2 separate regions of the Homo sapiens genome follow, and region 1 is linked to region 2. Evidence: fine-mapped expression QTL. Tissue or cell type: whole blood. Region 2 holds a variant in brackets; the other region holds the start of a gene. All regions are shown on one strand. Distances are from middle to middle.

Evidence for each region. PIP is the estimated chance that this variant, and not a neighbour inherited with it, causes the effect.
Region 1: TOB1 starts here. The variant in region 2 is fine-mapped to the expression of TOB1 in whole blood (INTERVAL, PIP above 0.99).

Annotation. Positions count from the first base shown.
Region 1 is chr17:50,862,992-50,870,991 of GRCh38, reverse strand. It overlaps TOB1 (transducer of ERBB2, 1), which reads left to right and starts at 4,638. Exons shown (of 2, transcript NM_005749.4): 1 at 4,638-4,934; 2 at 6,829-8,000. The coding sequence starts at 6,975. TOB1-AS1 (TOB1 antisense RNA 1) reads right to left here and starts at 4,313. Exons shown (of 2, transcript NR_038458.1): 1 at 3,775-4,313; 2 at 2,621-3,496. RefSeq lists silencers at 4,303-4,812, 4,823-5,432 and an enhancer at 5,973-6,022.
Region 2 is chr17:50,894,162-50,904,760 of GRCh38, reverse strand. No RefSeq gene overlaps it. Among named protein-coding and RNA genes, the nearest start is that of TOB1-AS1, 33 kb to the right of the region's middle. The variant C/T (reference allele first, on the strand shown) is at 3,468.

The DNA.
Region 1 (8,000 bases), 32 kb after region 2:
GAGATCCTCCTGCCTCGGCCTTCCAAGTAGCTGGAACTACAGGTGTGCGCCACCACGCCCGGCTAATTTTTAAAAAATAAAAGAAAATAAAATAGAAACGGCCTCGCTATGCTGTATAGGCTGGTCTCCACCTCCTTGTCTCAAGAGATTCTCCCACCTCAGCCTTCCAAGTAGCTGGGACTACAGGTGTGCATCACCACTCCCGCCTTTTTTTTTTTTTTAAATAAAATAGAGATAGGGGTCTCACTGTGTTGCATAGGCTGATCTCGAACTCCTCGGCTCAAGGGATCCTCCCGCCTCAAGCCTCCTAAAATGCTGGCATTACGAGCATGTGAGCCACCTTGCCCTGCCTGTCTTATTTTCAAATAAAGGTAAAAGGTTGATTCCTTAGAAGTGAAATGAGTCGGCCGGGTGCGGTGGCTCATGCCTGTAATCCCAACACTTTGGGAGGCCGAGGCGGGCGGATCACGAGGTCAAGAGATAGAGACCATCCTGGCCAACATGGTGAAACCCCATCTCTACTAAAAATACAAAAGTTAGCTGGGAGTGGTGGCGCATGCCTGTAGTCCCAGCTACTTGGGAGGCTGAGGCAGGAGAATCACTTGAACCCGGAAGGCAGAGGTTGCAGTGAGCCAAGACTGTGCCACTGCACTCCAGCCTGGCGACAGAGTGAGACTCTGTCTCAAAAAAAAAAAAAAAAAAAAAAAAGAAGTAAAATGAGTATTAATAATTATACACCATGTGATAGCTATTCTCCTGTAACCCTTTCTCAATTTACAAGGAAGCATATTAAGAATTAGAAAACTTAGGATGTCTCTATCTCAGAAATCAAGGTGTTGCATGTGTGTGTTCTTGTGTGGATTAGGTAATAATTCAAGGCACTTTCAAGAACTGTATTTTATGAAGATATTGGAAGTTATTTTTTACCAAACGATTACCTTTATTGTAAGGGCCCACTGGGAATTGTGTAGAATGTAGGGATGTGAAAGGCAAAGGCTGTAGTTTCTAGTGACTGTTATTTGCTCAGAGAGAGGAATACCTCTTGATTGTGATACACTTGGAGCCTAATATCAAATTCTTTTTTCCTCCATAAGTCTAATTCCCTGCACAATTAGCAGTTAGCCCTCCACTCCCCTGCACAATTCCAAAGTAAATGTTAGATAATAATAAGCCATATGCAGAACTTGGATAAAGAACATTTTATACCTCGTGACTGGCAATGTTCAGAGATGTGAATCAGTTTTCCCTTTTATTTGCAATCCATATATATGTATTTTTTTTCTTTTTTGAAACGAAGTTTTGCTCCTGTTGCCTAGGCTGGAGTGCAATGGCGCGATCCCAGCTCACCGCAACCTCCGCCTCCCGGGTTCAAGTGATTCTCCTGCCTCAGCCTCCCGAGTAGCTGGGATTACAGGCATGCGCCACCATGCCAGGCTAATTTTGTATTTTTAGTAGAGACAGGGTTTCTCCATGTTGGTCAAGCTGATCTCGAGCTCCCGACCTCAGATGATCCACCCACCTTGGCCTCCCAAAGTACTGGGATTACAGGCGAGAGCCACCGCGCCCTGACTTGCAATCTGTATTTGAAGAACAGCTGCAGTATATATGTTAGGAACATTGAGTTTTAAGGGCGGAATATTTTATTTATTTATTTTTTTGAGAGAGAGTCTCGCTCTGTCGGCCAGCAGGAGTGCAGTGGCACGATCGCGGCGCACTGCAACCTCCATCTCCCAGGCTCAAGCAATTCTCCTGCCTCAGCCTCCCAAGTAGCTGGGATTACAGGCGTGTGCCACTACACCCGGCTAATTTTTGTATTTTCAGTAGAGACGGGGTTTCACCGTGTTGGCCAGGCTGGTCTCAAATTCCTGAGCTCAGGTAATCTGCCTGCCTCAGCCTCCCAAAGTGCTGGGATTACAGGCGTAAGCCACTGCTCCCAGCCAAGTGTGGAATTTTTTTTTAATTGAAGGAGACATTAGATATGATCTAATTCAACCCTTTTTATAGGTGAGAAAACTAAAAGTTTATTGAAACTGGTGTGAAACTCAGACCTCCCAGTACCCACCCTTCATTGCTTTTTCCAGTATGCCATGGGGCCTCCGTGTGTGTTGTTTGTGTGGTGTGTGTGTGTGTGTTTATATTTGGTCAGACATCTTCTTACACTCCTAGGCCAAGCAGCAATAACTCATAAATTTTTGACATCTACATTTCTGACTTAAAAATGCTTTTAATGCTACTGATATTTAATCAGTACCTATCAGATGACTGCTCTCATATTTCAAATCTGGAATTACAGATTGAAGACATTCAGAAAAGAGAACTTGTCCCTTCTCTTTAGAGAATTATTGAAAAGTACAGATAAGTTTGACAAAATTACAATTCATCTATCTTTAGACATTTTAGTCTCAGCCATGCCTAATATGCCCCCCCAATATAAAATTACTAATCAAGACACATGGTCCCGCAGTTCTAGATGTTTGGTACAGTACCATTATTTGCCTAATGGTAAAAGAAGTTGTGCTTCTAGAACACGTGAAAAATGAAGTGTTTCTTTTGGTAAGGCATTCCAAGGATATCCTGTCTAGTTTCTTGAAATTTCTGTGCTTAATTAGAAAACTAAAAATAACTCACTTTTATTACAGATGGACTTGTCATTACAGAAAACCAAAAACAAACAAATAAAAAAAGAAAACTGAACAAATCATTTATATTTGACGCTTTGATGACATTTCAATGCAGAGGAAGGGACATTTTAATTTAAATGCTTTCACAGTTTTGCCATACTTTCACATTTCAATTCCACTCCTGTTTGCAACTAAAAAACCCAAACACTCAAAAAAAAAAAAAAATCACATTAATCAGAATTTAAGGAGTCACTTAGTAAAACTATGTTTTAGGAATCTGTACAATAAACATGAAATCAGTCACCTGACCACTCCCCACCCTCAGCCCATTCCACAAACCCATCTTCCCACCCCTTCTCCTACGCATTGAGCCTTCAGAAATACCCTTTCTCAGTGCGGTTCCTTCTAAAAAGGAGAGGCGGGAGAGTCAGGGTGGAGAAGGCGGCTCCAACCAGATTTTGCGTCCACAAAGCCAAAAGCTTCTAGGCCTGGCATGTACGGCGGGTTTGTGCCCGAGGAGCACAGCTGGTCTACACGGGCCCGCCCCGTAGACACCCTACTCCTCGGTGAGCTGCGGTTTAACTTCCTTATAGCAGGTTGAGAGTGCAGGCCCCAACGTTTGGAGGGGAAGGCGGCGCCCCAACTGGTGTTTTTCCAGGAAGTGCTCCAAGAATGGAGAGGAGAGGGGAAAGGGGAAAGGGGAAGGCCAGGCGATGGGCGTTTCATTCATTGCTTCTTTCTCCCCGTCCCCTCCTTCGCTCCCCCCAGACTTTCCCCTTTTCCCAGTCCGAGTTTGACGTCGGTCTCCTGGATACCAGGCAGCCAATCGCCTCGTTGCGAAGGGACCAGCGCAGCCAATCAGGCGTCGTTGCTACCTGTGAGTAATATTTTTAGCTGAGAGGGACGCTCGATTCCACTCCCGATGTAATTTCGTGTATTTCTCTGGGGCAGGTTGTGAAAAAGGCACTTACCCGCCCCCCACCACGAGTCCCTCTCTTACCCCACTCCCTAGGTACCCGCACATATTTCAGCCAAGAATGATCTTAAACGCGCTTTACAAGCAGGCACCGCGTTTATTCTGTGCACCTGCGATCCAGCAAGCCCTAGAAATGCACGCATGCGTGTGTGTGTAGACATGGACACAGATACATACGCAGTTTGGCCTCGTGTCGCCACACTCTGGGCACGGCGTGGGCTGGGACATTTGGAATAAACGGATCCGAGTCGCAGCCGGGGTCGCACCGGGAGGCCTGAGGCTGCGGAAGCAGTTAAACTGCCGGCGGGGCGGGAGCTGTGGCGGCCTCCCTTCCCCACCCCCAGCCCGGCTCCACGTCTTTGGGTTCTGCAGCTGCCACTCTCTGGGTGGCGGTTGGCCTAGGCCTTGGGGTGATTAATATTCAATTAATCGGGTGCACAAGTCCCGGTCACAGTTTGCCCTTTCTCTACCCCGCCCCTGGGGTGGGCTGGAGGCCGATTTGGTAGCTATTCCACGAGCAGGATCCTCCTTGGCCGCAGACCCCCGCGGAGAGGGCACTTTCTGGGTACTCTTGCCGCTCCTCCAGCCCCGGTTCTCCTGAGCCGCTTCGCCACCAGCTTCGTCCCCCTCCCCCTCTGCCCGGCGCTCTCCGCCTAAACCGGGCGTCAGCCGCCCTACCCCACCCCTTTCTCTCTCATTGGCACGTCTGCCCCCACAGTCCCTTTCCAGACGTTCTCTTCATTCCGTCCCCAGTGCTCCGATCGTCGGTTCATTGGCCCTCCTGGAGCCCGGAGGGTGCGGCTTCCCCACCCCTGCGTCCGCCGCGCGTCCGGACAGGGGCAGGCGGGACTTGGCCAATGGCGTCGGGGGGCAGGGCAGGGGCGGAGCCGGCCGGCGGGGGACCGGGGTGCCGGGCGGGGAGCGCGGGGAATGGCTGCGCCGCCGGAGCTGTGTGACGCGGAGCGGGCGCGCGCACCCCGACGGAGGGGATGGGGGCGGGGAGGAGGCCATAAAACGAGAGGCGGGGCGCGCGCCGCGGCAGAAGGAGCGAAGCTCTGGCCCGGCGTGTAGCGGGCGCACTACGGGGACGCTGGGCCGGGCACCGGGCTGTGTGGAGAAGTGAGCGCGCTCGTCTGACCCCCGTGCCCGCCACCCCGAGCCACTAACGGCGATCTCCCAAGGCCTGCCCGAGGCCTCTGTCCTCTGTCCTCAGCCCCGCAGCGGCAACGTCTTGCACTCGGCGAGCTCGCCGCTCCCGACCCTCCCGCGCCCCCGCCCTGCCGCGCTGCTCCCCGCCCAGCCGCGGGTCTGTGGTCCAAGCCGCCCCGAAGCAGCCCGTAAGTATCTCGGGGCGCCGGGCGGGGTCGGCGAGGAGACGGGAGCCCCGGGCCCAGGCGGCGGAGGAGGGGCTGCAGCGGCGTCGAGCCCTGGGCCCTCGGGAGCTCGGGGACGGCGGGGTCGCGGCCCTGGGCGCCGAGGGGGCAGCGCCAGGACCCGAGGGGAGCGGCTCCGAGGGGCCGCCGGCGCGTCGGGCTCGTCCTGGGCAGTTGGCCGGGGACGGGCGGCCCGGGGCGAGCTGACGGGAATTGGGGGGTTGGGGTGCCCGGAGGAGCGACGAGCTCGCGGTGGAACGCTGGGGTTCGAGGGGCCGGTGGCCGCGAGGCTGAAAATGGTGCCGAGGAACCGGTGCTCCCCCAGGCTCTGGCCGGCTCCCAGGAGCCCGGGGCGGGGGCCACGGGGCGGGGAGCAGCGGGTCGGGTTACGGCGGGGGAGGGGAGCGGCTGACCCGGCGCCCCGACCTGCTCGGTGCTGGGTGCCCAGCCGGGAGAGGTTGCTCTTCCATTTCCCGGGCCTTCCTCCTCCTTCTCCGAGGAGGCTCGTACTCTCTTCCTCCTCCACCTCCACCTCCTCTTGCTGTTGCTGCTGCTGTAGCGCTTGGGCTCCGAGGGCTGTGAGCAGAAATCTAATGAGATCTAACTGGCTGTTTATGTAATTCTTCACACTCCTGCCTGTCTTAAGGCGTTGCTTTGTAACTACCTTCCACCGAGCCTGAATTTCGCTCGGCTGCACCTTCAAGCAATTGGGCTTAATCAGCTGCCTCTGCCGGCACTCAGGCTTTTGACTTGGAAAGTGTTTGTAGTTTGGGGGCAGCCAGAGATTCTTTTTCCCTTTGTCACCACGAATATGGAAAATAGAACAGACGAATTAAGACCAACTTGATTTTTAAACGTACTTTTAAATCAACTTCAGTGTGCAAATAGATCCCTTTCGCAAATATCTTCTGTTTGCCCTTGATCTTTTCTTATCCCCACCCAGTGCTGATCCAGCAAACGTTTAAAGGTCGACCTTACCATACTTGCCTCTCCGGCTGTTACCGTGAGAGGGAGGGAGGGAGAGAGGGACAGACGGAGGTTTTTTAAAATCAGACTAAAACTCAGAAACCCTGGCCTTAAACAGAATAATCAATAGTTTTAATTTGTGTCTTTGCTTTTGTTATACTTGCTGCCGAATAGGTATTTTCAGATTTAGAAAAATACACATTGAAAACAAAAGGCCCAGAGAAGCTGGATTTTATTATATTGTATGCTCTTAGTATACTTAAGGCCGAAACTATATAGAATAATTTGGTTCATAATTATTTACTAGGATGAAGTTCATTTAGTACTCAGTGTCTTTAATTTTAGCATCATGTACTATGGAAATTAAAATGATCTTCCTAACGTAACCAAATTTTTAAATGTCAGTGACAGAGCAGATTTAAACAGTATATATCCAAAGTAAACTAAAACATGGATTCACTTCTAAGTTGGTGAATAACAATAAAAATTACTACCTAAAAGTGGCATCTATATATATGGGGGTGGGGGGAGGATGCTGAGTACAATAAATATTCTTGTGAGAACTGAGGAGAGAAGAATGCATGTTCTAGAGATTTTTCTTCTTAGAACTCTATTCAGAAACAGGTTTTTAAAAGCATTATTTCATTTGTAAATCTACATTTTCCTGTGTCATTTTAAACTTTAATAAACGATTTTCTATTTTATGTTTATTTTGTGCTAGTAACAGTTTTCAGGCTTTCTGTCCTAGTAGACATTTTCTTTTTCTTTTTATCCTTAGCAGACTAACACAGGATCTTAGACATTTTGAAAGGTGAAATTACTTTGGAGGGGGGAAGGTCATGGGACTTATATTACATTTATCTTATTTGGATATGTTTGCTTTTGTTTTAAGGAACAAGATCACTCAAGGTGAAGGATAATCTACTAATACCAGCACTTTGAATGAAAATTTGTTTCTCTGCCACAAACTGAACATCTTTTTTTTTTTTTTTTTTTTTTGGTGGGGGAGTTGAAACCTAATTTTGTGGCGTAGCAGCTATGCAGCTTGAAATCCAAGTAGCACTAAATTTTATTATTTCGTATTTGTACAATAAGCTTCCCAGGAGACGTGTCAACATTTTTGGTGAAGAACTTGAAAGACTTCTTAAGAAGAAATATGAAGGGCACTGGTATCCTGAAAAGCCATACAAAGGATCGGGGTTTAGATGTATACACATAGGGGAGAAAGTGGACCCAGTGATTGAACAAGCATCCAAAGAGAGTGGTTTGGACATTGATGATGTTCGTGGCAATCTGCCACAGGATCTTAGTGTTTGGATCGACCCATTTGAGGTTTCTTACCAAATTGGTGAAAAGGGACCAGTGAAGGTGCTTTACGTGGATGATAATAATGAAAATGGATGTGAGTTGGATAAGGAGATCAAAAACAGCTTTAACCCAGAGGCCCAGGTTTTTATGCCCATAAGTGACCCAGCCTCATCAGTGTCCAGCTCTCCATCGCCTCCTTTTGGTCACTCTGCTGCTGTAAGCCCTACCTTCATGCCCCGGTCCACTCAGCCTTTAACCTTTACCACTGCCACTTTTGCTGCCACCAAGTTCGGCTCTACCAAAATGAAGAATAGTGGCCGTAGCAACAAGGTTGCACGTACTTCTCCCATCAACCTCGGCTTGAATGTGAATGACCTCTTGAAGCAGAAAGCCATCTCTTCCTCAATGCACTCTCTGTATGGGCTTGGCTTGGGTAGCCAGCAGCAGCCACAGCAACAGCAGCAGCCAGCCCAGCCGCCACCGCCACCACCACCACCACAGCAGCAACAACAGCAGAAAACCTCTGCTCTTTCTCCTAATGCCAAGGAATTTATTTTTCCTAATATGCAGGGTCAAGGTAGTAGTACCAATGGAATGTTCCCAGGTGACAGCCCCCTTAACCTCAGTCCTCTCCAGTACAGTAATGCCTTTGATGTGTTTGCAGCCTATGGAGGCCTCAATGAGAAATCTTTTGTAGATGGCTTGAATTTTAGCTTAAATAACATGCAGTATTCTAACCAGCAATTCCAGCCTGTT
Region 2 (10,599 bases):
GCCAGCACCTGTGTGAGGGGTGGCCGGGCACCCTGCCCAGAGCTGAGGAGAAGCTGCCCCCTGGGGACTGGGCCCAGGCCTTCTTGTTCAGCCAGAAATTCCAGCCTTTTAAGGATCAAGAGCCAGAGAACGGCCTTTTCCAGGCTGCCAGCGAGCCGTTTTTCCAGCTTGGCAGTATCGCCAGTGCCTTGAGGGAGGCCTCTCTGCTTGCCCGCACCTCGTAGGCCAGGCTCTCGGGAAGGAATTATTTCTTAAGTCAACTTTGTTGAGGTCTAACTTACGCACAACAAAATGTGCCCATTTTAGGTGCACTGTTGTATGTTTGCATACCTACCACAATAACCAAAGTAGAGAACATTTCCGTTACCCTGAAAGGTTCCCTGTGGCCCCTTCTGAGTCAGTCATGCCCCTTCCCTGGCCCCAGGCAAGCACCAATCTGCTTTCTGTCATGACAGATCAGATTTGCATGTTTTGTATACGTTACCATACAGTTTCTACTCTACTCTTACCTCTGACTTTTCCCCCTCAGCCTAATGATTTCAAGATTCGTTCATATTGTTGCGTCTATCATAGTTCTTTCCTTGTTATTGCAGAGTAATATATTCCATTATATGGATATGTTATAGTTTGTGTAGCCATTCACCTGTGTTTGGACATCTGGGTTGTTTCCAGTTGGCAGCTATTATGAGTAAAGCAGTTATGAACATTTGTATATAAATCATCATGTGGATGCATGTGTTCATTTCTCTCGCATTAGTAACTAGAAGAGGGATTGCTGGGTCACATGGTAAGTGTATGTTTCACTTTTAAAGAAACCACCCAACTGTTTCCTAAAGTGGTTGTACCATTTTACAATGTATGGGTAGGACGGGATTTTGAATGCAGCCCTTCCCTCCCTGTTCCATATCCTGGCCTTTTCTCTTCCCCAGGGACTGAGCAGGGTTTGTTTGTTTTTTTGGTGTTGTTGTTGTTGTTTGTTTTTTTCGTAAGTTTGTGTGGTGCTTTGGTTGTGGGGGCGGTTCTTTGCTTCACCAGAAAACATTCTCCTGCCCCCTCAAAGTCCCTGCTCATGGATGAGGTTAAAGTGGCTATGCCGAGTAGAGAAGGGCTTAAGGATCTATTTATATGTGAGTTTAAGCAGATACAGTGTTGGCTAAAATGCTATAATTATTTTCCTTTTGTTAGCTCTTCCCATCCTGTGAGAGTGTTTTTGTTTTTGTTTTGTTTTTTTTTTGTTTGTTTGTTTTTTAGACGGAATCTCGCTCTGTGGCTTAGGCTGGAGTGCAGTGATGCGATCTCGGCTCACTGAAACCTCTGCCTCCCAGGTTCAAGCAATTCTCCTGTCTCAGCCTCCTGAGTGCCGGGTACATGCCACCACGCCCGGTTAATTTTTGTATTTTTAGTAGAGATGGGGTTTCACCATATTGGTCAGGCTGGTCTCGAACTCCTCAGGTGATTGACACACCTCAGCCTCCCAAAGTGCTGGGGTTACAGACGTGAGCCACGCGCCTGGCCAAGGGTGTTTTTAAACAGAGCTACTGCCATGCTGGCAGCCTCATCCTATTCCCCAGCCTGCTGCTCCCCGACCCCCATCAAAACCATTTCTTCTAGAGGCCAAGGCAGCTGAGAGTTTCTTTTCCTGAGTCGTCACTTTTCATTAGCACAGGCTGATAACTGGGGTAGGCACTGGAGCTGGAGAACTTTGTATTTTTGCTGTCAGTGTCCTACCCCTGCTCTCACCTCCCTGTCTGACCCATTGTTCCACCTTGCCATCAGTCACCAGAGAGCTCCGGGCTTCCGTAACTCAAAGGATGCAGCTGCCCAGAAAGAAAGGATTAAGCTTTCTTTTTGTATTCAGACACATTGCTAATTGCCAAGAAAGTACAGGCAGAAGAAAGGATCTACCCTTGGAGCAAGAGTTAAGGAAACCTAACAGCCTGGCACTGCACATCTGCTGAACTAGTCCTATTTCTACCCCTGTTTTAAAGTTTTTAGGGCTGGGCCAATAAATAACCTTTTTAGGATAAATTCAGATCTTCCCTGTAAGACTCTCGGGATATAATTTCTCTCACATTTCAGGATACCTAAGAAACCATTCTCCCCTGCTTGGGGAATACCACTACTCATGCCTGGAGCAGCTCACTTAGCTGGGTTCATCATGCTCCACCTTCTTCCTCTTCTTTTTTTTTTTTTTTTGAGACAGGGCCTCACTCTATCACCCAGGCTGGGGTGCAGTTGCAGCTGTGCTATCTCAGTGCACTGCAACCTCTGGCTCCCAGGTTCAAGTGATTCTCCTGGCTCAGCCTCCCAAGTAGCTGGGACTACAGGCATGCACCACCATACCCAGGTAATTTTTGCATTTTTAGTAGAGATGGGGTTTCACCATGTTGGCCAGGCTAGTCTCAAACTCCTGACCTCAAGTGATCCACCTGCTTCAGCCTCCCAAAGTGCTGGGATTACAAGGCATGAGCCACCACACCCGGCCATGTTCCACCTTCTTTAGAAGGCATTTGCTGGCAAGATACCGCCAGCCTCAGCATGTTTTAAACAGATGAAATTGCCCTGGACTATCAAAAGTTTGCCTGGGATGATAAGCCTGTGACATTGCCCCAGTCTGAGCTATCAAAACAATATTTAATCCTGGATTAAATATTGTTGTTACTGCTATTTATTTTATTCAAAGATTGAAAAATAGCTGTGAGGTGCTGAATTTGATACAGGCAGGAAGTCTTGTTAACTAACCCTTATTCCAAGTTGGCTTAAGCCAAACCTGTGCTGTCCAATATGGTAGCCACTAGCCAGATGTGGCTATTTGAATTTAAATTACTTAAGTTAAAATTCAATACCATGAATTTAGTTCCTTCACTGCAATAGTCATATTTGAAATGCTCAATCGCCACATGTTGTTAGTGGCTACCATATTGGACATGGCAGATATGGGACATTTCCATCGCCACGTAAAGTTTTATTGGAGAGTGTTGGTTTCAACACTTAGCCACATATACAGCAGCAGCTTTATCACATAGAACATTTAGAACCTTATCACCTAGAACATCTATATATGGGCCTTATCTGGGATAGACCTTAGAGAAAAAAAATTCAGAGATACGATCCCTGTCCAAAATGCATCTGCAAATCCAGAATGACACTGACACACAGGATTTAAGAGAGTAGAGGACCAATTTCAGACCAAGCAATGATGGACGTGTAAGGGCAAGAGAGAGACACAAATTCAAAGAGAAGGAAACTGCATGTGCAAAGGCAAGAGATGTGAGGGGCTGGCTGTTTGGGGTTGTCCTGGAGTGCTGTAACAAGGAGATATTTGTACTTTAGGATGGTTACTTTGGAGACAGTGAGAGGGCCATGGGAGACCAGGAGGACCAAGGAATAATCCAGAGGGAAACTGAGTTGTCCTTGAACTAAAGCCTGGGCAGTAGGGGTGGAGAGAAGCAGTCAGATCTGAGAGA[C/T]CTTGGGTCCAGCCTGGATGGGGTAGGTGGGGAGGAGCATGCACTATACCTGGATGGTTCAAGGAAGAGCTGGGACATCTGGGATCAATTGAATGCTGTGGGCTCTAAATTAAAAAGGCTCCACCAGGAAATACCCCAAATGGCTGGTTTCTAGAAGATCAAGGTTGCCAACGCTGACTCCTTCCAAATCATGAAGTATGAGGTTCTGTGCGACTTCAGCCTTCCCTTTGAGTCAATGAGGCAACAAACCTATTGCTGGAAAATGGCGTCCTCCAGGGAGGGTGTCGTGGGGGGCCCCGGGCTCAGTATAGCACAGAATGCACAGCCCTTGGTTGTCCAAACTCTCCACTTGACTTTATTTATAACCCTAATTACACCCTCCAGGAAGAACAGTTGCTGATCAACCCAGTTACAAATTAAAGTTAATAAAATGAAGACAGCAATGAATGGCTGCTGCCCAAGCTGCCAAGGGCTCCGATCAACCCCAAAAGGAGACTGCGGTGCTCCCAGGACTCCAGCCACCAGTGTCCTCATTCACATGCTTGCCGTGGAACCCCCCCCTCCCCTCCCAGCTCGCCTCCCTCCCCTCAGTGGCTCAGTCCACCTGTTGTCATCTCCCATCAGGGATCATCAGGCTTCAGGTTCTCCAGGTTCAGAAACTCATGCCATACCCAGTTGGTCCCCAACCCAGCCTTCTCCCGCCACTACTGCCTCCCCAAGCGGTCACATCAGTTGTCGGTGCCACTGTGTGAAATGAAGCTGCTGTGAGCAGAGCTGTAAGAATCCAAGGACAGGAAACAGGGCCTTCACCTCTTTACTCCTCTCCAGCTCTCTTTTTTCTCTTTGCAGCTCCCTTTCTTATTCATTTCCTGTTATCTTTTTCTCTACCCATCTCCCTCACCCTGTGGCTGACCTTGTCCACATGCCCTGAATGTCCTGAGAGGGGCCCTGAATTCCACCGGTGTCCCAGATGGTCGAGCGGCACTGGCTGCTTCGTTCAGAAGCACGGGCAGCTTCAACGCAGCCTCCAGATTCTGCTGACCCTGTCCATTCCTTTTTCTTTCTAAAGAGAGGAAACTGGAGAGGGAGAGTGGGGGACAATCCTCTCCTCACAGGCCCTGCTCTCTGTGTACTTGGCCCCTCGCTCTACCTCCCTCCGTCTCCTGCAGCTTGCCTCCTGCAGAAACAATTACAGATAGTCAATCTTCATGCCTTGCAATCCACAGCACACCCAGATGAACTGATGCGGGTTATCTGGGAGGATGGAAAAGGATGTGATGACTGGGCCACTTCTCTGCAGCATGTAGAAACCAGTGCACTGGTTAGAGGGCTACTTCTGACCCTCTTTGCCAGCCCCTATAACCCGAGTACCATGCGCATACCAGCCATCAGAGAAAACAGCGAGTTCCCTGGGGTTTAGGATAATCATCCCTGGATATTCTGGCTTGTTCTTGTCTCATATCTGCCCAGCTTTAAACTCTTGGTTCTTGGTTGAGCACGGTGGCTCATGCCTCTGATCCCAGCACTCTGGGAGGCGGAGCTGGGAGGATCGCTTGAGCCCAGGAATTCAAGACCAGCCTGGGCAACGTAGGGAGACTCTGTCTCTACAAAAAAATTTAAAAACTAGCTGAGTGTGGTGGTGCACACCTGTAGTCCCAGCTACTTAGGAGGCTGAGGTGGGAAGATCGCTTGAGCCTGGGAATTTGAGGCTGCAGTGAGCTGCGATTGTACCACTGTGCTTAAACCTGGGCAACAGGGTGAGACCCTGTCTCTAAAAAAATAAAAATAAATTAAAAATAAACTCTTGGCTCTGTTCCCCCCACAGCCTTGATTAGGGGTTTCTATCCAGTTCTACCAGCATTTGGCTCTTGGATTTCCCAGATGGGCACTGACGTGGCTCACCCACTGGGAGGCCCAGTTTCTGCCCTGCCTTCATAGAAGCTGTGCCCTGGCTCCAGTTCTGCCGTCACCAAATGTCCACATCAGGCTCTTCCCCTGTGCCCTGGGGAAGCCAGAGTGGACCTCTTCAGTGAGGGGGTGGCAGAGTGACCAGAGGAACCAGTGCTGCCTCTAGGGCTGGCCATGCCAGCGAGGGTGAGATGTCAAGATGTCACCATCAGACTCTGACTCAGGGGGCGGCCCACACACTACTTTGCCTTGTAATCAGTGTGTTTACTTGTCTGCCTTGCCCATGAGGCTATGAGCTCTGTGAGAGCAGGCCTGTGTCTGAATCGCCGCTGTAGCCCCAGTACCTGAGGCAGGTTCCTGTGCTCTGACAAAGTGTCTGTTGAACAAATAGATGAACAAATGAGCCCTTCCTCCTTTATTCCCTGCCAAGGTTAATGTCCTCCCCATTCACACAGGCCCAGGTGAGAAGCTTTAGGGTCACTGAGTTTTATTGATTCTGCTTCTTAAAATACTTTGCCCACCAATTCCTTCCTTGGGGGACTATGTGTTTCTTAGCTAATTCTAACTGTCTTTTATTTATTTATTTATTTATTTATTTATTTATTTATTTATTTTTGAGATAGGCTCTTGCTCTGTCACCCAGGCTGGAATTCACTGGTGTGATCATGGCTCACTGTAACCTCGACCTCCCAGGCGTAAGCGATCCTCCCATCTCAGCCTCCTGAGTAGCTGGGACCACAGGCATGCACCACCATACCAGGTTAACTTTTTTTTTTTAGAGATGGGGTCTCACTATGTTGCCCAGTCTGGTCTCAAATTCCTGGACCCCAGCGATCCTCCTGCCTTGGCCTTCCCAGGTGTTGGGATTACAGGTGTGAGCCTCCAACTGCCTTTTGATTGATTTTCTGGTTTCCTTTTTAAACTCTCACCTACCTGTCCATCTTCCCCATTGCTCATAAGTATAACACAAATGTAATCATGCTGCTCCTCTGTTTAAATATCTCCAGTAAGTCTTCCTTTCTCACCAACTAATGTACAGTTCCTTTAGCCCCTCCATGATTTGGCCCAACCTGCTTTTCCAGGCTTCTTCCTGCTGCTTCCCCTGTGGACCCTGGGAGCCAATCACTCAGAAATTCTCACTGTTCTTCAAGTAAGTTACTCTTCTTCCACCTCCACATTTTACATGTTTTATCCTCTTCGCAAAGGTTACTCTGTGCAACAAACCCCACCCTTGTCAGCCTACTGAACTCCTACTTATCCTTTAGGATCCAGCTAAAATGTCACCCCCTCTGATCCTCTGAAGTCATCAGCTAGCAGTCCAGCAGTCCAACTTTTTTTTTTTTTTTTTTTTGAGATGGAGTCTCACTCTGTCACCCAGGCTGGAGTGCAGTGGTGCAATCTCGGCTCACTGCAACCTCTGCCTCCCAGGTTCAAGCGATTCTCCTGCCTCAGCCTCCTGAGTAGCTAGGACTACAGGTGTGTGCTACCATACCCAGCTAATTTTTTGTATTTTTATTAGAGATGGGGTTTCACCATGTTGGCCAGGCTGGTCTCGAACTCATGACCTCAAGAAATCTGCCCTCCTCAGCCTCCCAAAGTGCTGGGATTACAGGTGTGAGCCACCACACCCGGCCCAACATTTCTTTCTTATACCTCTTATCACCTTGTATGTGTCCCCAGCACCAAGTACCGAAGTTCCTTGTTCCATGTCTCTCTCACATGAGCAATTAGGCTCCATGAGGGCGGGGCCTGTGTCATCTACCCTAAGCTGGCTGAGAGCCCTGTGCATGGAGGGACAGGCAATATACCATAGGCTCCGTGGCCTTGGGCAAGTTACTTGCCTTCTCTGTCTCAGTTTGCTCATCTATAGACTGTCTTAACAATAGTTCCTGCCTGAGGGTTGTTGAGGATTAAATGAGTTACTATTCATAAGGCAGGTAGAGCAGTGCCTCTCACATACTAAGCCCTCAATAAACGTTAGCTACTGTTATTATCTGTGATTATTAACTCCTCTGTAAATGTTTTTGAGTGAATGAGAACTTTAAGTAGAACAAGGCACTTTTCTACACATAAAGAACATCCAGTATCAGAGTCCTTCTGTTAAGATCTTCAAGACATCAGTGCACCCCATATACTACCTGGATGAGCAGTCCTTTGTTTGTGGGTAACAATCTACCACTTTTCCAAGTTATGCAGAAAATGTTCAGTTGAGGAAAGATGACTGGAGAAAGTTTATCATAGTTGAGATGAAGGAAGGGAAAAGATTTGGTCATAAGTCCCCTAGTTACGTTTTTTTAAGAGACAGGGTCTTACTGTGTTGCCCAGCTGGGCACGAACTCCTGGGCTCAAGCAATCATCCCGTCTCAGCCTCCTGAGTAGCTGCGATTATAGGAATGTGCCACCACACCCAGTACCCTTTGAGAAGGATGTGAACCCGTGATTATTCAGCTGCTAAATTATGAGGAACCAGGCGACTAAGGGGCCAGGTTTAGGGATATTGCTTTTGGAAACAAATTTCTGCATCCAAAAATCTTTATTTATTTATTTATTTATTTACCTATTTATTTTTGAGACAGAGTCTCACTCTGTCACCCAGGCTGGAGGGCAGTGGCTCAGTCTCAGCTCACTGCAGCCTCCCCAACTCAAGTGATCCTCCCACCTCAGTCCCCCAAGTAGCTGAGAATACAGGTCTGTGCCACCACACACGGCCAATTTTTGTATATTTTTGTAGAGGCGGGGCTCTCTCTATGCTGCTCAGGCTGATCTCGAACTCCTGAGCTCAAGGGATCCACCGGCCTCGGCCTCCCAGGGTGAGCCACTGTGCCTGGCCCCAGAAAACTTTAAAGACAATTGAATCCTAATCATTTTGGTTTAGAAAATGATCATAATTTTGATTTTGGTTCAAATTCTGGTCCTATTATTTGCTATTTGTAAGATCCTGATATATCCCTGAGTCTGGCTAATCTATAACTTAAAATTACTCTCATCTCATGCGGCTGTTGTGAGGTTGAGATGGGATTAAATTAAGTAATTCACATGAGGTAATTTACATAATGTAAAGCATTAAGATCATAGGTGTGTACAAACTTGTTGTCCGAGTCAATTTTGAAATTTATTCTGTACCTGGATCTAATAAAAATGCTTACCTCTGAAGCAACAATAACATTGAGCAGCTATAGGTATAGTTTTTATTCCTTTATTCTAGTCAGTTAAAAAGAAATCCTCTTGAACTCAATATGCATTGTGGGCCAGATTTTTTGTGACTGGCTGAAGAAAAAAAAGTGTTAAAAAATACAATCCCTAGTGGTGGCTCACGCCTGTAATCCTAGCACTTTGAGAGGCCGAGGCAGGTAAATTGCTTGAGCCCAGGAATTCAAGACCAGCCTGGGCAAGATGGTGAGACCCTGTCTCTACAAAAAATGCAAAAATTAGCTAGGGATGGTGGCTCACGCCTATAATCGCAGCACTTTGGGAGGCCAAGATGGGTGGATCGCTTGAGCCCATGAGTTTTAGGCCAGCCTGGGCAACATGACGAAATCCTGTCTCTACAAAAAATAAAAAAATTATCTGGGCGCGGTGCTGTGTGACTGTAATCCCAGCTACTTGGGAGGCTGAGGTAGGAGGATCACTTGAGCCCAGGAGGTTGAGGCTGCAGTGAGCCGTGATTGTGCCACTGCACTCCAGCCCGGGTGACAGAGCGAGACCCTGTCTAAATAAAGAAAAAATACAATATCTGCCCTCAGGTAGCTCATAGTGTGGTGAGGGAGACAGATGACAGATTTTTAATGAGTCAAAGTCTAGCAGTGGCCTGTTACGTCTCCACAGAGGAGACGCGCATAAGTGACAGTAGACAAGATGGGGCAGGGTAGTTAGGGGAGATGATATTTGGACTAAGCCTTGAAGGAAGAGTAGGAATACTAGTCAGACAAGAAACGGGGAAGGAAAACTGACTCCAGGCAGCTGGAGCAGCCCGTACAACGATCCTTAGGTGCAAAGAGTCATCCCATTCTAGGAAGAGCAAATTGTCTGATGAGGCTACAGCATGAACACCCCCAGTAAGGAGGCAAGCGAAGAAACTGGAAAGGCAAACAAGCCTCGCGTCCTGAAGAGACACAGGAGGCGGGTGGCCCGAGTCTGTCCCAAATCAGGACGCAAAGCCACGGAAGGTTGCAATCGGAGGAGTGATCCGATGTGTTAGCGTCTTGTTCTGCTCACTCTGGAGGCCACGTAACTAGAAGGAGGCTATTCCAAAAATGCAGGCAAGACATTCTCATTTGTAGATGTGCAGAGGCCACAAGGAAGGTGATTCCACAATCTAGATCCACATGCAAGCTGGCAAATACATCTTATCCTGCAGTAGATGCTCACTAAGAAGTGACATTTGCCGGGTACCTATCTTACTGACTTTAGAAGAAAAAAACTAGTTGAAGTGGCATTTGCATACTTCCAGTACACCACGGGGGCACCTATCAGAAGTGTCCCAGCAAAGATGGGCACAGAGGTAAATTCTGGAATGAGGGGAGGTCCAAGAGATTATACCCTAAAAACGTGCTTTTGTTGTTGTTGTTGTTTGAAACCAGGTCTTGCTCTGTTACCTAGGCTGGAATGCAGTGGCGCGATTACAGCTCACTGCAGCCTTGACCTCCTAGGCTCAAGCAATCCTCCCACCTCAGCCTCCTGAGTAGCTGGGACCACAGGCGCACACCACCATGCCTGGCTTATTTTTTATTTTATTTTTTGAAGAGATGGAGTCTCATTTTGTTGCCCAGGCTGGTCTTGAAGTCCTGGGCTCAAGCAATCCTCCCACCTTGGCCTCCCAAAATTCTGGGATTACAGGCATGAGCCACCATGCCCCACCACAAAAATGTTAACAGAGATTATTTCTGAGTGGCAAGATTATAAGTGATTTCTTTTTTCCATAGTAAACATGAATTATGGCCGGGCGCGGTGGCTCACGCCTGTAATCCCAGCACTTTGGGAGGCCGAGGCGGGCGGATCACGAGGTCAGGAGATCGAGACCATCCCGGCTAAAACGGTGAAACCCCGTCTCTACTAAAAATACAAAAAATTAGCCGGGCGTAGTGGCGGGCGCCTGTAGTCCCAGCTACTCGGGAGGCTGAGGCAGGAGAATGGCGTGAACCCGGGAGGCGGAGCTTGCAGTGAGCCGAGATCCCGCCACTGCACTCCAGCCTGGGCGACAGAGCGAGACTCCGTCTCAAAAAAC